Regions from separate parts of the Homo sapiens genome. Here region 1 is linked to region 2. Evidence: fine-mapped expression QTL. A gene starts in region 2. The other region holds a variant in brackets. All regions are shown on one strand. Distances are between the middles of the regions.

What was found. PIP is the estimated chance that this variant, and not a neighbour inherited with it, causes the effect.
Region 1: its variant is fine-mapped to the expression of SMCR8 in whole blood (INTERVAL, PIP above 0.99).

What each region holds. Positions count from the first base shown.
Region 1 is chr17:18,236,891-18,245,923 of GRCh38, forward strand. It overlaps LLGL1 (LLGL scribble cell polarity complex component 1), which reads left to right. Exons shown (of 23, transcript NM_004140.4): 13 at 1-49; 14 at 591-883; 15 at 1,177-1,324; 16 at 1,566-1,719; 17 at 3,688-3,983; 18 at 4,561-4,825; 19 at 4,995-5,109; 20 at 5,276-5,388; 21 at 5,618-5,738; 22 at 5,853-5,932; 23 at 7,018-7,985. The coding sequence ends at 5,931. FLII (FLII actin remodeling protein) reads right to left here. Exons shown (of 30, transcript NM_002018.4): 27 at 8,854-8,960; 28 at 8,665-8,770; 29 at 8,464-8,529; 30 at 7,925-8,382. The coding sequence ends at 8,248. Among named protein-coding and RNA genes, the nearest start is that of LLGL1, 16 kb to the left of the region's middle. The variant G/A (reference allele first, on the strand shown) is at 4,490.
Region 2 is chr17:18,311,647-18,320,071 of GRCh38, forward strand. SMCR8 (SMCR8-C9orf72 complex subunit) reads left to right here and starts at 3,647. Exons shown (of 2, transcript NM_144775.3): 1 at 3,647-6,503. The coding sequence starts at 4,144. It overlaps TOP3A (DNA topoisomerase III alpha), which reads right to left and starts at 3,348. Exons shown (of 19, transcript NM_004618.5): 1 at 2,953-3,348. The coding sequence starts at 3,132. It also overlaps the pseudogene RPL7AP65 and the pseudogene RPL21P121. RefSeq lists enhancers at 2,397-2,920, 2,868-2,957, 2,968-3,317, 3,445-3,968, 3,658-3,707 and a silencer at 3,468-3,517.

The sequences.
Region 1 (9,033 bases), 74 kb before region 2:
TCTCTGCAAGTATACAGCCCAGATGGTGGTGGCTGGCACTGCAGGCCAGGTAGGGCTGGGTGTCCCCTGGGTTGGAGATGTCAGGGAGGGCTTTCTGGAAGAGATGAGCTGGAGGGTCTGGTGGAAAGGGAGATGGACTGGCACAGGCAAAAGCCAAGGTGGGAATAGGGCTCTGGGTGGGGCTGGCTGGGGTGAGGACAGATGGGAAGTGGGCCTGTCGCTGGGGGAACCACAGTGTTGAGAGGAGGGAACTCATGTCAGTGCTGTGCTCCGGCACTCACATGACATACAGGAGGTGCTCAATGTGTCCTTATTGCTAAATGGGAGATAGAGGCTCAGGGTAAGGGTGGACACTTTGCCCTCAGAGGGCAGGGACTAGTGTGTCTTGGTCACCACTGTGTTCCTTGTGCTCAGCCAGGGCCTTGGTATACAGTAGGCATTCAGTGAGTGCTTGTTTAGCTGATGAACTGAAGACAGTCCTAGAACCACCTTGGTGGTGGCTGGGGCTGCTTCAGAGGCTCCAGGCTGAGTGGGGCCCAGGGCGGCCCCTCCCCTGCGCTGATGCTCCCCCTGCCTGGCTGTGGGCTCAGGTGCTGGTACTGGAGCTTAGTGATGTGCCGGTGGAGCAGGCGGTCAGCGTGGCCATCATAGACCTCCTCCAGGACCGCGAGGGCTTCACATGGAAGGGCCACGAGCGGCTGAGCCCACGCACGGGGCCGCTGCCCTGGCCTGCTGGCTTCCAGCCCCGTGTCCTGGTGCAGTGCCTGCCGCCAGCTGCTGTAACCGCTGTCACACTCCACACCGAGTGGAGCCTCGTGGCTTTTGGCACCAGTCATGGCTTTGGCCTCTTCGACTACCAGCGCAAGAGCCCTGTGCTGGCCAGGTGTGTGGGGTGGGGCCGGCTGGGCAGTTGGAGCCCCCAGCGAGATGGGGTCTGGGCTTCCGTTTCCACCTCTAGTGTTTGGTGTGGCAAAGGCCACTAACCTCCATTGCCCTATAAGAAATAACCTGGCAGCTCCAAGAAGGACATTCTCAGTACCACCTGCAGCTGGGTCCATAGGACTGCGCCAGAGGGGCTGTGACTCCCTGACCTGGGTGCCTCCACAGGCCAGCAGGAGTGTGGTGGCTGCCCCAGGAGGCTGCTCTATAGCACGACTGGACCCTGTCTTCCCCCAGGTGCACTCTTCACCCCAATGACTCCCTGGCCATGGAGGGTCCGCTCTCCCGGGTGAAGTCTCTCAAGAAGTCACTGCGCCAGTCTTTCCGGCGCATTCGCAAGAGTCGTGTCTCTGGCAAGAAGCGGGCTGCTAATGCCAGCAGCAAGGTGAGCTGGGGTGGGCTGCACAGGAGCTGTGCCTGTGTCCTGTGCCTTGGCCTGGCTCTGGCCTGGGACCCCTGGGGCCTGCTTAGCTCAGTGCTCCTCCCTCGGCAGCCCCTGGGCCCTCCAGAGGGATGGGTGAACTAAGCTGGGTGGTAGAGGAATGGTAACAGAACGTAGGGCGCAAAGCAGGATGCAAGCCACTGGGGTGCTAGGGAGACAGTGTTCAGGAGCCCCCGCCCGGCAGTTGCAGGAAGCCAATGCACAGCTGGCTGAGCAGGCCTGCCCCCACGACGTGGAGATGACGCCCGTGCAGCGCCGCATTGAGCCCCGCTCTGCCGATGACTCCTTGTCGGGTGTCGTGCGTTGCCTATACTTTGCCGACACATTCCTTCGAGATGGTAAGGCAGGGGCAGGGGCAGGGACAGGGCAAGGGTTGGGGGGGCTGGCCTCAATTGGCCACCTGGGAGATGGGTGGTGGCAAGGGAGGTGGTGGGACTGCACCTTCCAGGAGGTGGCTGGGCACGGTGGCTCAAGCCTGTGAGTGATCCCAGCACTTTGGGAGGCCGAGGTGGGCGGATCACCTGAGGTCAGGAGTTTGAGACCCGCCAGGCCAACATGGTGAAACCTCGTCTCTACTAAAAATACAAAAATTAGCCAGGTGTGGTGGCGGGCGCCTGTAATCCCAGCTACTTGGGAGGCTGAGGCAGGAGAATTGCTTGAACGTGGGAGGCGGAGGTTGCAGTGAGCCGAGATCGTACCACTGCACTCCAGCCTGTGCAACAGAGTGAGACCTTCTCAGAAAAAAAGCTTACCATCCAGCTCTCCCAGGGGGACTGCTGGGTCACCCCCAGTCTCTCTGGGGGAGCTGGATGGTAAAGGATTTTTGAGTGAGCTGGGTGGGCCTCTCAGATCTGAGCCAGGAGAAGGGAGGTTGAGGCCTGGTGGATGACGGTGAGGGGCACCAGCCAGTGCCCAGGCCCCGAGCCGGGCATGTGTGTGGGCAGCTGCCCAGCCACTTGGCTGGAGTGGAGCAGGTGAGGGTCGAGGTGTGTGGTTCAGGGAGATACTGCTGCTGGCCAGAGGCTGAGGACCTGGCTTTGATTCTCAGTGGCCTGGGAGCCCTGGGAAGGTCCTGGATTTGTTGATTGAGTCACTGATTGATTTTGAACTTGTACAATGGGAGAGTTTCAAACATACACAAAAATAGAGAGGTGCAAAGTTGTCCCACATACCTCACATGCCTGCCACCAGCCATGTGCCCCTGCGGATTCTGCCCCCCTCCTCCACATTCTTTGCTGTTTTTTTTGCCGGGGTATTTTAAATGAAAACCCAGATACAAGTACTTCAGCATGTTCCTGACAGATGTCACTGACAGCCACTGCTCACATCATGCCCTGTAGAACCAATGTGAATTCCTGAGTGTCATCTGCTTGGTCTACGAGCTCAGCTTTCTGATGCCATTTATTTGTCGAGGGTCTTTGTGCAGTGGATTTTCTCACTGTCTGGATGTGGCGGGTGCAGCTGGGGGTGGGGGGTTCTTTGACTTTTTGTTTTTTTTGACTACAAAGACCTAGAAGAGGAGAGCCTGGGGTTTTTAACTTGTTCCACTGGCCCGAGAAGGCCGATGGGTTCATGTTCATGGCCGGCTGGGGTTCCTGTTGGGCATGTTTTGAGTTGTGCAGACACTTAATGCCTCAGGATCCATCGGGTCATCAGGGAGCAGGTGCCGAGTCTGCTCTTGCTTCTGCTGGGCTGGGCTCTGATTCTCCACTAAAGCTTGTCACCCAGAGGTTCAGTTCACACAGGCAGAGCAGGGTCGATGGATGGTCGTCCTAGGTGTCCCCAGGCTTGGCGGCTTCCTCTGGCTGCCACGTAGGGAGCACACTGAAGACAGTGGGGGTGAAGCAGGGCTAAGACAAGGCACACCTGTCGACAGGACTAGCAAGGGGACGCAGGGGTGGAGAGAGGAGTCGGGGTCTTGTGGGGCTTGGGGCCTGAGTGATGCTAGGATGGAGCTGCGTTTACTGAGATGGGGGCTGAGGGTGCAGTGGGATGGGGCTGGAGGTCTGGTTTGGGTGCCCATCAGCATTCTGTGCAGATGCGCTACAGCTGTTCGGGCCTCTGCAGGAGGGCTGCATCCTGGGCTCCGACTGCAGTCAGCAGCATAGAGCTGGGGTCTCAGGCCTCGAGGCTGGAGGTCACCAGGGAGGCATGGGGCAGGAGGGAATCAGCCCTGAGTCCCAGGGTGTCATAGTTAGGAAGCAGGGCTACAAGAGAGGCAGGGAGGGACCTGCAGTCTGTGGGAAGACCCCAGGGGAGATGCCTGGCCCACAGGGAGCACCCTCCTACGCGCTTGTTTTCTGCAGGGGCCCACCACGGGCCCACCATGTGGGCTGGCACCAACTCAGGCTCTGTGTTCGCCTATGCACTGGAGGTGCCGGCAGCAGCAGTGGGTGGTGAGAAGCGGCCTGAGCAAGCGGTGGAGGCCGTGCTGGGCAAGGAGGTGCAGCTGATGCACCGGGCGCCTGTGGTGGCCATTGCCGTGTTGGACGGGCGTGGCCGCCCACTGCCCGAGCCCTACGAGGCCTCACGGGACCTGGCGCAGGCACCTGACATGCAGGGTGGTCACGCTGTGCTCATCGCATCTGAGGAGCAGTTCAAGGTGAGCCACTGTGGGCTGTGGGGGACTCTGGGGGACTCCCCTCCAGGCCCCAACCTCATGGACACCATTGGACCCTCAAGAAACCCTTCCTGCCTGTATCCCCCACTGTTGGGACCCTAATTCCCTTGCACCCCAGAAAACACTCCCAGCCAGCAGAGAACTCCTACCCAAGAACCCTGATGCCCCCTCAGCCTGCTGAGTTCCCCTGGGAGGGCAGGAATCTAGTCCTATCTCACTGTGCCACACAAGGCTCCTGTACTGGGCCCAGACCCCTGAGCCCAGTCCCCAGGGGCTCTGCCTCGAAAGAACTCGAGGTTTGATGGGGATACCAGCTGCATAACCTTGGCATAACTCTGTGATTGATTTTGTCACAGATCGAGAGAGGGCCTGGGAGGTTTCTGGAGTACAGTGTGAAGTCTGGAGTTTAGTGGGGCAGCCAGGTGTACAGGCACGGGAGGCCACGTAGCATGCAGCTGGGCTTTGTGGTGGGGGCTGTTGGGTCAGCA[G/A]CCACGAGGGTGAGGGGCCCTGGGGACGAGGACAGGGCCAGGCTTTGTGCTCACCAGCCACCTGCTGTCAGGTGTTCACACTGCCCAAGGTGAGCGCGAAGACCAAGTTCAAGCTGACGGCCCATGAGGGCTGTCGTGTGCGCAAGGTGGCACTGGCCACGTTTGCCAGTGTGGCCTGCGAGGACTATGCTGAGACCTGCCTGGCCTGCCTCACCAACCTGGGTGACGTCCACGTCTTCTCGGTGCCTGGCCTGCGGCCCCAGGTGCACTATTCCTGCATCCGGAAGGAGGACATCAGCGGCATCGCTTCGTGCGTCTTTACGCGCCATGGCCAGGGTGAGGCGGGGCAGAGGCCGAGGAGGCCTTCCTCAGGCGAGCGAACTGAGTGGGACCAGTACTGCTTGGGAGCAGGAAGGGCACTCCAGGTGGGCACAGGCCCAGGCCACGGAGGAGCTGTGGTTGGTGGTATCTTCTAACTGCACTCCTCATTCTTCTGCCCACCCAGGCTTTTACCTGATATCCCCATCAGAATTTGAACGCTTCTCCCTAAGTGCCCGGAACATCACAGAGCCGCTCTGCTCTCTGGACATTAACTGGCCCCGCGATGCCACCCAGGCCAGGTGTGTGGAGGGGCAGCTCCTAGCCTGGGGGACCTGTGCCCAGGGCCAGGTCTCATCCCACCCCCGAGATCTGCCTTCCCTGGGCTCAGGAGTGGGAGGGCAAGGATCTAGCGTGCCAGCCTCAAGTCATCCACCTATGGTCCCCATCATGGCCCCATCTCTGCAGTTACAGGATCCGAGAGTCACCCAAGCTGAGCCAGGCTAACGGGACCCCAAGCATCCTGCTGGCCCCACAGAGCCTTGATGGAAGCCCTGATCCAGCCCACAGCATGGGACCTGGTGAGGGGGGCATGAAAGGGGTCCAGACCCTGGCCCCACGGTGCCCTGGGGGAGGGAGTCGGGACTCACATAGCTCAGGGATCGGGCAGGCTTCTGTAGGAGATGGGTGGTTGTGTGCTCACTGGTGCCACCCCTCACCATGGGCTGCCTTATGGGTCTGTGTCCCTAGGCCCCCAGGTGCAGAGGGTGCTAAGGGTCCTGGTAGGGGCTGATGACTTGCTCCCTGTAGACACCCCGGAGCCACCCGAGGCTGCACTCTCACCCATGTCCATCGACTCAGCCACCAGTGCTGACACCACGCTGGACACGACAGGGGACGTCACAGTGGAAGATGTGAAGGATTTCCTGGGGTGAGGCTGGTGGGCAGGTCCACAGGGGGGGCTGCCCTGTCCCCTAGGCCTCCGTCCCCAGGGCTGCCAGGGGCTCCCCCGCCCCCACCCCTGAGCACCATCCCCATCTCGCAGCTCCTCTGAGGAGTCAGAGAAGAACCTGAGGAACCTGGCAGAAGACGAGGCCCACGCCTGTGCCATCCTGATCAAATGAGGTGCTGCAGGGGTGGGGCCCTGGTCCTCACCACTGGTGACGTCCACCCCCTTCAGCCCGTCTGGGTACCATTTGGCCCTGGTCTTCTACCTGAGACCCTGGCAGGCCCATGTGATGGCACTCTCTGAAACCTGGCTGCCTTCCATGGAGTGCCTCAATTGGGGACTTCTGGTGCTCACACAGACACCAGTGTCATGGTTGGGTATTAGAAAAGCAGGGCCAGCCCCTCAGCCCTTGCATGTGACAGGTGGTGGTTAGGACAAGACCAGATTTGTTTTGTTTTGTTTTGTTTTGTTTTGTTTTTGAGACGGAGTCTTGCTCTGTCGCCCAGGCTGGAGTGCAGTGGCGTGATCTTGGCTCACTGCAACCTCTGCCTCCTGGGTTCATGCCATTCTCCTGCCTCAGCCTCCTGAGCAGCTGGGACTACAGGCGCCCGCCACCACACCCAGCTAATTTTTTGTGTTTTTAGTAGAGACGGGGTTTCACTGTGTTAGCCAGGATGGTCTCGATCTCCTGACCTCATGATCCACCCGCCTCGGCCTCCCTAAGTCCTGGGATTACAGGCGTGAGCCACCGCACCCGGCCAACAAGACCAGATTAAACCACTTAGAGGTGGCAGTAGTTTGGGGCTTGGGAGCTGGTTTGGCCAGCCTGTTTCATAGATGAGATCACTGAGGTGCACGAGGTCAGGTCTCATCGGTTGGGCCCAGCAAGTGGCTGACTTACCCCTGCCTGAGTCTGTGGATCCTCACCTAGATGTGGGGCCCATAGATCTGCCCAGCGCATTTGCTGCCTCATGTTCCCAGGCACCTGACTGTAGGCCATAGCCTCACCCTGCACAGGACATGGACACCTCCCAGCTCTTTGTCTGGTGCCTCTCCCTGGCCTCAGTGGGGCATATGTGGCCTGGCGCTTGGATACCCATCTGGAGACTCAGCAAGCCCATCTCAGGTGGTCACTGAAGGGCCATGCCTGCCCTGCAGAGGAGACAGTGGCAGCACCTGTGTGGTCTGGCCGCTGTGGCAATCCATCTGCCCTTTTGCCCTCCCTCACCTTCTGCTGATACCTCTTCTCTCCCTCTTCCAGGAAGGCCAGAACTATCCCGACCTCCACCTGCCCTGCTCGGAGCTGGAGTGCTGGATCCCTGGCACCTGCCTGGCCCCTTAACATAGAACCACGCCTGCTAACCTGTAGGCTCCACTGGGACCTGCTGTCCTGTCCCGCCTGACCCTGGGCCCTGGAGCAGCACCAGCCCCAGGGTGTGGGCCTGGGACCTGGGCCAGAACTGAGCCCTCCTGCAGGCATTTGGCTGCCCTGGGGGCCCACTGCCTAGGGAAGAGGACAGGTGGGGCCCAGCACCTGTGCCACCTCCCCCCCTCCACACACCATCCTTCCCCCTCACTTTGCAGAGTATTTTTCCTTTTTTTTTTTTTTCTTAAAGACGGAGTCTTGCTCTGTCGCCCAGGCTGGAGTGCAGTGGCCCCATCTCTGCTCACTGCAAGCCCCGCCTTCTGGGTTCCCGCCATTCTTCTGCCTCAGCCTCCCAAGTAGCTGGGACTACAGGCGCCCACCACCACGCCCAGCTAATTTTTTCTGTATTTTTAGTAGAGATGGGGTTTCACCATGTTAGCCAGGATGGTCTCGATCTCCTGACCTCGTGATCCACCCACCTCAGCCTCCCAAAGTGCTGGGATTACAGGCGTGAGCCACCATGCCCAGCCCTGCAAAGAGTATTTTTCTAGCGCCTGGGCTGGACAGTTGTTTCTAAAACTAAACTATTTTGGTACCTGCTTCTGGGCCAGTCCCCAGCCTGTCATGAGTGTGTGTGTGCGGGCATGGATGTGACTGGGAGCTCTGCTGGGCACCCACATCTGGGGCCTAGTCAGGTGTGTGTGTCCGGCGGGGGGGGGGGGCAGGGGGGGGGGTCAAGATGAGTTTCCCTGTAGATTGTACCTTGGGGTTTTTTTCTGTCGTTTTGTTAAAATTAGCGCCATTTTAATATTAAAAATACTGATTTTTAATATTGAAAATAAAAGCATTTAATATCTCTTAAAGGGCATCCACATCTGCTTTATCCCTAGCGGAAGAGTGAGGGGGCTTCACACGTGCACTCACACTGTGGAGAGAGTTGGATTTCCCAGACCCCTGAGGGCACCTGTCAGGGTCATCCCCATTGGTGCTGCTTGAGGCTACTGGGGACTGTGGCACTGGACGTGGCTGGAGCAGGTGGTGTCACCTGAGTACATTCTTTGCTAGCAGACAGTGGATGAGGCCCCTTCCTCTTCCTCACCAAGCCTGGGGCTGTGCCAGCCTGTCTTAGGCCAGGGCCTTGCAGAAGGCGCTCCAGGCGTGGAAGCAGCGGGTAAAGGCGTGCTGCTCATTGCCCTTGCGGACCAGGCGCAGCCGGCGCGGCCGCTCATGTTCCTTGGACCGCATGTGCTGGATATATACCTGGCAAGGGGACAGCGAGCCTTGGGTGATGACCCTGCCCTGCCCACAGGCCCACCTCGGCCCTCCCTCCACCCAGATTACCTGGCAGGCCTTCAGGCTCAGCTTGATCTCCACCTGGCTAGTCTGGGTCCCCACCCACATGTAGACCTGTGGGGGCAGCAGGGGAGATACGGTTGCATGGGTGCCTGGGAACAGCCCCTTGCTCCTGGCCCGAGAATTCCCATTTGTAAGTAAGTCTATGGGCGCCTCCTTGGATGGGCAGGGCTAGTGGCAACATCACACCTCTTGGCCATTGTCTAGCAACATGATGTCATCATCTGCCAGGTCATCTTGGCAAAAGTCGGAGCATTTCTCAGTCACTGCAAAGTAGCCCTTCTCGTTGGAGCACCTGGGAATCAAGGGTCAAGGTGAGGCCAGAGGTCATAAGCAGCAGTGCCAGGACTGAGGGGAGGGTCAGGGCCCTGGCCTCACCGGAAGAGACGTGTGTGTTTCATGTACTCGGCATCGTCATCATAGGGCTTCTGTGCCCCAATGCCCACCCAGAAGAAGTTCTCAGGCTCCTCACCTTCGTTGATAACCTGCGGGAAAGGCCAGTCCAGCCCAGGGCCCCTGCCTGCCCTGGCTCCTCTGTGTGTGCCCGCCTGCCCGCCC
Region 2 (8,425 bases):
TTAGGACATAGCAATTAACAAAATATAATCACTGTCCTTTGGAGTTTAGAGTCCAAGGAGAGGCAGTGACAAAAATCAAATAAATGATCGCACATCCCATTATTTAACTGTAACTAGTAGATGCCTTTCAAGTAGAATAGAGTGCTATGACAGCATGTCAGTAAGGGTCTCTGACCTAGTGTGGGGGAACAGGTGGTGAGGGAAGGATTCCTTGAAGATGAGACATTTCAGCAGCCTCTCTCCTCTAGCCGCCCCAGATGCCAAAAGGAAAGATGGCCAAGGGGAAGAAGTGGCCCTGGCCCCTGTTGTCATGGAGCAGCAGTAGGCCAAAAAGGTGGTAAATCCCATTTGAGAAAAGCCCTAATAATTTTGGCATTGGATATCTAGCCTAAGGGCCTCACCCACTTTGTCAAATAGTCCCGCTATAAATGGCTGCTGCGGCAGAGCCGCTGTACTCTATAAGTGGCTGATGTGCCACCTGGGATTGACCAGTTCACCCAGGCCTCAGACTACCAAACTTAAGCTACTCAATTGCTTAAGCTGGCCCACAGTACAGACAAGAGACAGAGCAAGGGATGAGATCGAAACCGTTGGCCCAGGCTGAGAAGAAAGCTTCCAGCAAAGGGGATGTCGCTACTAAGAGACCACCTACACTTCGAGCAGGGGTTGACACCGTCACCAACTTGGTAGAGAGCATGAAGGGTCAGCTGGTGGTGGATCCCATTGAGCTGGTTGTCTTCCTGCCTGTGCTGTGTCCTAAGATGGGGATTCTCTACTGCACCGTCAAGACTGTGGTGTCAAATTCCACAGGAAGACCTGCACCACTGTCACCTTCACAAAGGTTAACTTTCTGGTAGACAAAGGAGCTCTGGCTAAGCTGGTGGGACAAATTACAACGACATATGAGATCTGCTGTCACTGGGGAGGCAATGCCCTGGGTCCAAAATCTGTAGCTTGCATTACCAACCTAGAAAAGGCAAAGGCTAAAGAATTTGCCACTAAACTGGGTTAAGTACACACTGTTGTGTTTTCTGTACATAAAAATAAAAATTCTCTTTCCAAGAAAAGTCTTTCCTTTTGGCTGGAACTGCCATCTTGGAGTAATTTGCCAAAATGACGAACACAAAGGAAAAGAGGACGAGGCATCTGATGTATGTTCTCCTGGCCTTATAGAAAACATGGAGTTCGAGCTGGGCACGGTGGCTCACGCCTGTAACCCTAACACTTTGGGAGGCTAAGGCGGGTGGCTCACCTGAAGTCAGGAGTTCAAGACCATCCTGGCCAACACAGTGAAACTACTAAAAATACAAAAAATTAGCTGGGCATGGTGACAGGCACCTGTAATCCCAGCTACTAGGGAGGCTGAGGCAGGAGAATCGCTTGAACCCGGGAGGCGGAGGTTGCAGTGAGCTGAGATCACACCATTGCACTCCAGGCTGGGCAACAAGAGCAAAGCTCCATCTCAAAACAAACAAACAAAACAAAACAAAAATATGGAGTTTCTCTGGCCACAGACACCAGAATCTACAATGAAGGTGATATTGAGGACTTCGTGAGAATGCATACTGTTCAAAAGGGAATGACCCACAAATGTTACATGGCAGAACTGGAAAAGTCTATGTTACCCAGCATGCTGTTGGCACTGCTGCGAACAAGGGCTAGATTCTTGCCCAAAGAATTAATGTTTCTATTGAGCATATTAAGCACTCTAAGAACCAAGATCTTTCCTGAAATGTGTGAAGGAAAATGATCAAAAAAGAAGCAAGTCAAAGAGAAAGGGTTCACCTGAAGTGCCAGCCTGTTCCATTGAGGGAAGTACACTTTGTGAGAACCAATGGAAAAGAGCCTGAGCCGCTGGAACCTATTCCCTATGGATTCATGGTATGATAGGGTAAAAATAGATAAATACAAGACCTCTGGATTGCTTAAAAAAAAAAAAAAAAAAGGGAGAGAGAGAGAATGAATTCAGCAGAGCCTTGAAGGATAAGAAGTTAGGCGTAGGAGAACCATTTTTCAATGTCTACTTCATTGTCTAGAAGTAGACAAACCTTGGGGCTGGTCACCAGGACTTCTAGCACTGGAAACAGGTAAAGCTGTCAGCCAGCATTCACACAACCCTGGCTCCACTCCCACTATCCTTGATCTGGAAACAGGTCTTAGGACCCTGGGAACTAAAGAAAAATGAGCAGGGAACTTCCACCCATGCTCTTAGAAAAGTTCTCCAGAAAACCATTTCAGGATCTACTTTTGTTATCTGAGATATTTTCCTGGACAGCTCTTTATGTCTCCCGTGGCACCTCCTTTATGAAACTTTTTCTTATCCTCCCTTGCGTTTGTGCCTCCCGTGTGTGTAGAACACATTCTTACCACTTACCTCTCTCAGAATCAGTTCATTCGGGTAGGAACAGGGCTGACTTCAAATCTAATCCCCAAACCTTACCGTGTTGCTGTAAGTGTGCACTGTGAGGCTGGAAAGTCACAAGGGCTGTAGAATGCAGTGGCTGTGGCACAGGATGGGGAGGGCTAGGTTGGCTGGGGAACGATCGGGCAGGGCTTGAATGCCAAGTTAAGGGAATCTGGTCAGTAGTTCCCAAATGAATTTCTGAATCTCTAGGGAAAAACAGTAAAATACACACTTCCCCAGCCTCACACAAGACCCGAAGGGCAGCCAGCGCCCGAGGCGATTCCGAGAATCAGACAAGTTTGGGAACCTGCTAAGCGCAAGCAAAACAAAAGGTTTCCACGCAAATGAGTGAGATGTATCAACTACGTTTTAAAATGCACTCCAGTCCGAGAGCAGACAGGAGGCCACTGCAATAATCCAGACGAGGGGCAGTGAGGCCTGAGAAATGGGAGATAATCGCCTTCATCTCGATTCTTGGCGCCCACCACGCTGTCCCGCTCGGTGGGCCTCCCTTAAGGCACGCAGCTGATCGGAACGCGCTTTCTTACCCGCCTCATGCGACCGTTTGACAGCAGGTCGGCGATCCCCTTGGCCGCGTCGTTTTTTTCGGCCACACAGAGGACTTTCCGCACGCCTCGGAGGGCCATCTCCATGGCGGCGCGGGAAAAGGCACGGTCTTCGGGCCGTCGCAGCCACCGGAGCGCGTAGCGGGCGACAGGAAAGATCATCCTCAGACCTCGCGCCCGGAGCCGCTCCCCGGCTGCCGGCGCATCCTGGGGAAGCCAGAGATGAGGCTCAAATGGCGCCCACCGAAAGGGAACCAGAGCCTCGCTTCGGTCACGTCCCCACCAGCCTGCTGGCCTTTGGAGCTTCAGTCACTGAGCCTTTCCCGTGCCGCAGCCGCCGCCTCAGCACCGAATCCAGTATCTTGGCGTGGAACTTCCGCCCGCCTTCTCCAGCTACTTCCGCCAGGCGCGCGCCCCACAGCGACCTGGAACTACAACTCCCAGACTGTCCCGCGCCCCTCGTCCAAGCACGTTCCCCTCTGCCACCTTCCCGCCGCCCCCGTCTCACTCCGCCCCTCTTTCCCCTCCTTCCCGGCAGTGGTTGGTTAATCGGACTCCTTCTTGCGGGGAGCCGCCAGACACTCCCATCCAAGGCCTCTTTCTCATGACTTTTTAATCTCCTGCTCGGAAGTCTACGAGGACGCTTCCGGGTCACGCGGCGCGGACACCAGGAGTCATGTGATGTCAAGATGGCGGCGCCGCGGTAGCAGGATCCGGGTTGTGGCGTCCTAGGAGCCGCGACGGTTTCTGCCCTCGGGCAGTGAGGGGCAGCAGCGCTTGGCTGACCCCTGCGGCGTCCCGTAGCCTCGCGTTAAGCCTTGTTCAGAGCGGGGGCTTTTGCTGTCGCAGTGGGTTCCGGAGAGTGCAGGTGATTTCGCAGCAGGTTTCTTGTGCTGGCCGCGCTCGCCGGACGAAGAAGAGAAGGGCAGTTGGGCCTGCGGCCTTGGCGTTCATGAGGCCTCAGAGAGCTCCGGAGGAGCTACAACTGTGAGGGGGCTGCTAGAGTTCTTCTCCTCGGGTGTGTGAGAAGCAGCCTAGGACCCCGGGTTCGGGGAGTCGCAAAGAAGGCCGTAAGGGCTTCACTTCCTTCTCCGGAGGCCTGCCTTCTGCGCGTCGATTAACACCGCATTCTTTCCCACTTCCTCTCAATGTTTTCTTCATATATCTGGAAATATGATCAGCGCCCCTGACGTAGTGGCCTTCACCAAAGAGGAAGAGTATGAAGAAGAGCCTTACAATGAGCCGGCCCTGCCTGAGGAGTACTCGGTGCCGCTCTTCCCCTTCGCCAGTCAGGGTGCTAACCCCTGGTCAAAACTGTCCGGGGCCAAGTTTTCGAGGGACTTCATTCTTATTTCCGAGTTCTCTGAGCAGGTGGGACCCCAACCCTTACTGACCATCCCCAATGACACCAAAGTTTTTGGCACTTTTGATCTCAATTACTTCTCCCTGCGTATCATGTCTGTGGATTACCAGGCTTCCTTCGTGGGCCATCCTCCTGGATCTGCCTACCCCAAGCTGAACTTCGTGGAGGACTCCAAGGTGGTGCTGGGAGATTCTAAGGAGGGCGCCTTTGCATACGTGCACCACCTTACCCTATACGACCTGGAGGCCCGTGGCTTCGTGAGGCCGTTTTGCATGGCTTATATCTCTGCAGACCAGCATAAAATCATGCAGCAGTTCCAGGAGCTTTCAGCCGAATTTTCCAGAGCTTCTGAGTGCTTGAAGACTGGCAACAGGAAGGCATTTGCTGGGGAACTTGAAAAAAAGCTGAAAGACTTGGATTACACCAGGACAGTGCTACACACAGAAACGGAGATCCAGAAGAAAGCCAACGACAAAGGCTTTTACTCATCTCAGGCAATTGAGAAAGCCAATGAACTGGCCAGTGTGGAGAAGTCCATCATTGAACATCAAGACCTGCTGAAGCAGATCCGCTCATACCCTCATCGGAAGTTGAAGGGGCATGATTTGTGTCCTGGTGAGATGGAGCACATCCAGGATCAGGCCAGCCAGGCATCCACTACCTCTAACCCTGATGAGTCTGCCGACACAGACCTTTACACCTGCAGACCAGCCTACACCCCAAAACTTATCAAAGCAAAGTCCACCAAGTGTTTTGACAAGAAGTTGAAGACCTTGGAGGAGCTCTGTGACACTGAATATTTCACCCAGACCCTGGCTCAGCTCAGCCACATTGAACACATGTTCAGAGGAGACCTGTGTTACCTCCTGACCAGTCAGATTGATAGAGCACTTCTAAAACAACAGCATATAACAAACTTTCTCTTTGAAGACTTTGTGGAGGTCGATGACAGGATGGTGGAGAAACAAGAAAGCATACCCTCTAAGCCCAGTCAAGACAGGCCGCCTTCCAGTTCTCTAGAAGAATGCCCAATTCCTAAAGTGTTAATTAGTGTTGGTTCTTACAAGTCCAGTGTGGAGTCTGTGTTGATCAAGATGGAGCAGGAACTGGGAGATGAGGAGTACAAGGAAGTGGAAGTGACTGAGTTGAGCAGTTTCGACCCCCAGGAAAACTTGGACTACCTGGATATGGATATGAAAGGGAGTATCAGCAGTGGTGAAAGTATTGAAGTTTTGGGCACGGAGAAATCCACCTCCGTGCTTTCTAAATCTGACAGCCAGGCAAGCCTCACAGTACCATTGAGCCCCCAGGTGGTCCGGAGCAAAGCAGTCAGCCACAGGACCATCAGCGAGGACAGTATTGAAGTCCTCAGTACCTGCCCCTCTGAGGCCCTCATCCCTGATGACTTTAAGGCCAGCTACCCAAGTGCCATTAATGAAGAAGAATCATATCCAGATGGCAATGAAGGAGCCATCCGCTTCCAGGCAAGCATCAGTCCTCCAGAACTGGGTGAGACAGAGGAAGGCAGCATAGAAAACACCCCATCACAAATAGACTCCTCCTGCTGTATTGGGAAGGAGAGCGATGGTCAGTTGGTGCTGCCCTCCACTCCAGCCCACACACACTCTGACGAGGATGGGGTGGTGAGCAGCCCCCCACAGCGCCACAGGCAGAAGGACCAGGGGTTCCGTGTAGACTTTTCAGTGGAAAATGCCAACCCTTCTTCCCGAGACAACAGTTGTGAAGGGTTTCCCGCTTATGAGCTGGACCCGAGCCACCTGCTGGCTAGCCGGGACATCAGTAAGACCAGCCTGGACAACTACTCAGACACCACCAGCTACGTGAGCAGTGTAGCGTCCACCAGCTCAGACAGGATCCCCTCTGCTTATCCTGCTGGCCTGTCTTCCGATAGGCATAAAAAGAGGGCTGGCCAGAACGCCTTAAAATTCATCCGCCAGTACCCCTTTGCCCACCCAGCCATCTACTCCCTGCTCAGTGGGAGGACACTTGTGGTCCTGGGGGAAGATGAGGCCATAGTCAGGAAACTCGTGACTGCACTGGCTATCTTTGTCCCCAGCTATGGCTGCTACGCTAAGCCCGTGAAACATTGGGCCTCCTCCCCTTTGCACATTATGGATTTTCAGAAGTGGAAGCTTATTGGCTTGCAGAGGTAACTGGTTCCAGGTGGTGGGGAAGGGCCTTGGCCAGATAGGGATGAGGTATATTGGTGTGGTGGAGCCAGAATCAGGAAGCCTGGCTTCTAGACAGGGCCCAGTTCCTACCACTGTGTTACTTTTGGCAAGTCATCCCCCTCTCTGGTTTCTATTTCCTTGTCTGTCATGTGAGGGGGTTGCAGTTCCTAGGTGGTTGCCAATCCCCATCTGTCCCCGAGCTGTGTCAGCATTATTAGGGAAAGTTTTTATTTTTATTTTTATTTTTTTGCAACGAAGTCTCGCTCTTGTACCCCAGGCTGGAGTGCAATGGCGCGATCTTGGCTCACTGCAATCTCCGCCTCCCGGGTTCAAGCAATTCTCTTGCCTCACTGTCCTGAGTAGCTGGGATTACAGGCGCCTGCCACCACACCCGGCTAACTTTTCTATTTTTAGTAGAGACAGGGTTTCACCATGTTGGCCAGGCTGGTCTGGAACTCCTGACCTTAGGTGGTCTGCCCACCTCAGCCTCCCAAAGTGCTGGGATTACAGGTGTGAGCCACCGTGCCTGGCCGGAAAGTTTTTAAAATCATGGATTCCTGAGTCACAAGCCCTCGAGGTTCTGATTCGGTTGGTGTGAGGTAAGACATGGAATTTATCTGTCGCCATTGCCAGCCCGACTGCAGGGAGCATCTCTCTATAAAAGCAAAAGGCCCATCAGAAGGGACAGATGACTCCGGGGGAAAGGGTTAGGCTGCTGTCCCTGTAAGTGCTCTTTCAACCTTCAGAGCACGTGCAGATGTTGGGTGCTGGGAGCATCTGCCTCCAGCATCCTACACAGGCATGAGGTGCAGCGGGCAGGTGTGGGGAGCCCTGCACCCTGGAGGGTCCCCTGCGGGGCCAAACGGGAATGGGATGGGCTACAGCTCACCCAAAGAATTCCTGGGGGAGGTGAGCAGTAGACGCCACCTGAGGGTATGATAAGATGAAACTGTTGTGGGCTGTGGCAGTTAGCGGGAGCAGTGGGTGGTCTGGGTCAAGTCCTGGTGTGCCACCACTCGCTGTCTGGATTCGGACCAACCATCTCATTCAGTCACCCAATCATGTTGAACACCTCTGAAGGGCTCCCGGGGCCCACCTGAGAGCCATCGGAAGGGTCCACGTTTAGTGCATGTCCAAAAAAACACAGCACAGTGCAGTGCTTGGCCCTGAGAAGCACTCAGAGGGTGGAACCGGCACCGACACAGGCAGGCAGACTGGGGCCTACCTGAGGCCCAGCTTTAAAAATCACGAGCAGGAGAGATGTCTTCGGTGGTTGTGACCTTCCTATCCTCGGAGGTGTTGCGCTGCAGAGGCTCTGCACTCTGAGCACCACGGCCCAGAAGTGTGCCTCCTCACTCAGGCCCACTGCTCACATGATGGACTCTCTTTCAGGACTCTCACCTCCGAACACCAGTCTTGCTGGCCCTTGATTTTTTTCACTCTGCCTGGAAATGCTTGTAGTTGGGTCAGCCATCTGTGGGGATAAGAGATGGCTAAACAACCAAGCTGGTATCCTGTCATTTGCGGGTTTTTTTGTTTTGTGTGTTTTTTGTTGTTGTTGTTGTTGGAGACAGAGTCTTGCTCTGTTGCCCAGGCTGGAGTGCAGTGATGTGATCTCAGCCCACTGCAGCCTCTGCTTCCTAGGCTCAGGTTATTCTCGTGCCTCAGCCTCTCCAGTAGCTGGGATTATAGGCGTGCGCCATCATGCCAGGCTAATTTTTGTATCTTTAGTAGAGACAGGGTTTCACCATGTTGGCCAGGCTGGTCTCAAATGATCGGCCCACCTCAGCCTTCCGAAGTACTGGGATTATAGGCGTGAGCCCGGCCCTGCTGTCATTTTAAGTGAACACCAGGGGTCATCCTATTGCTTACTAAGCAGCAGTCACAAGCCCAGACCGAA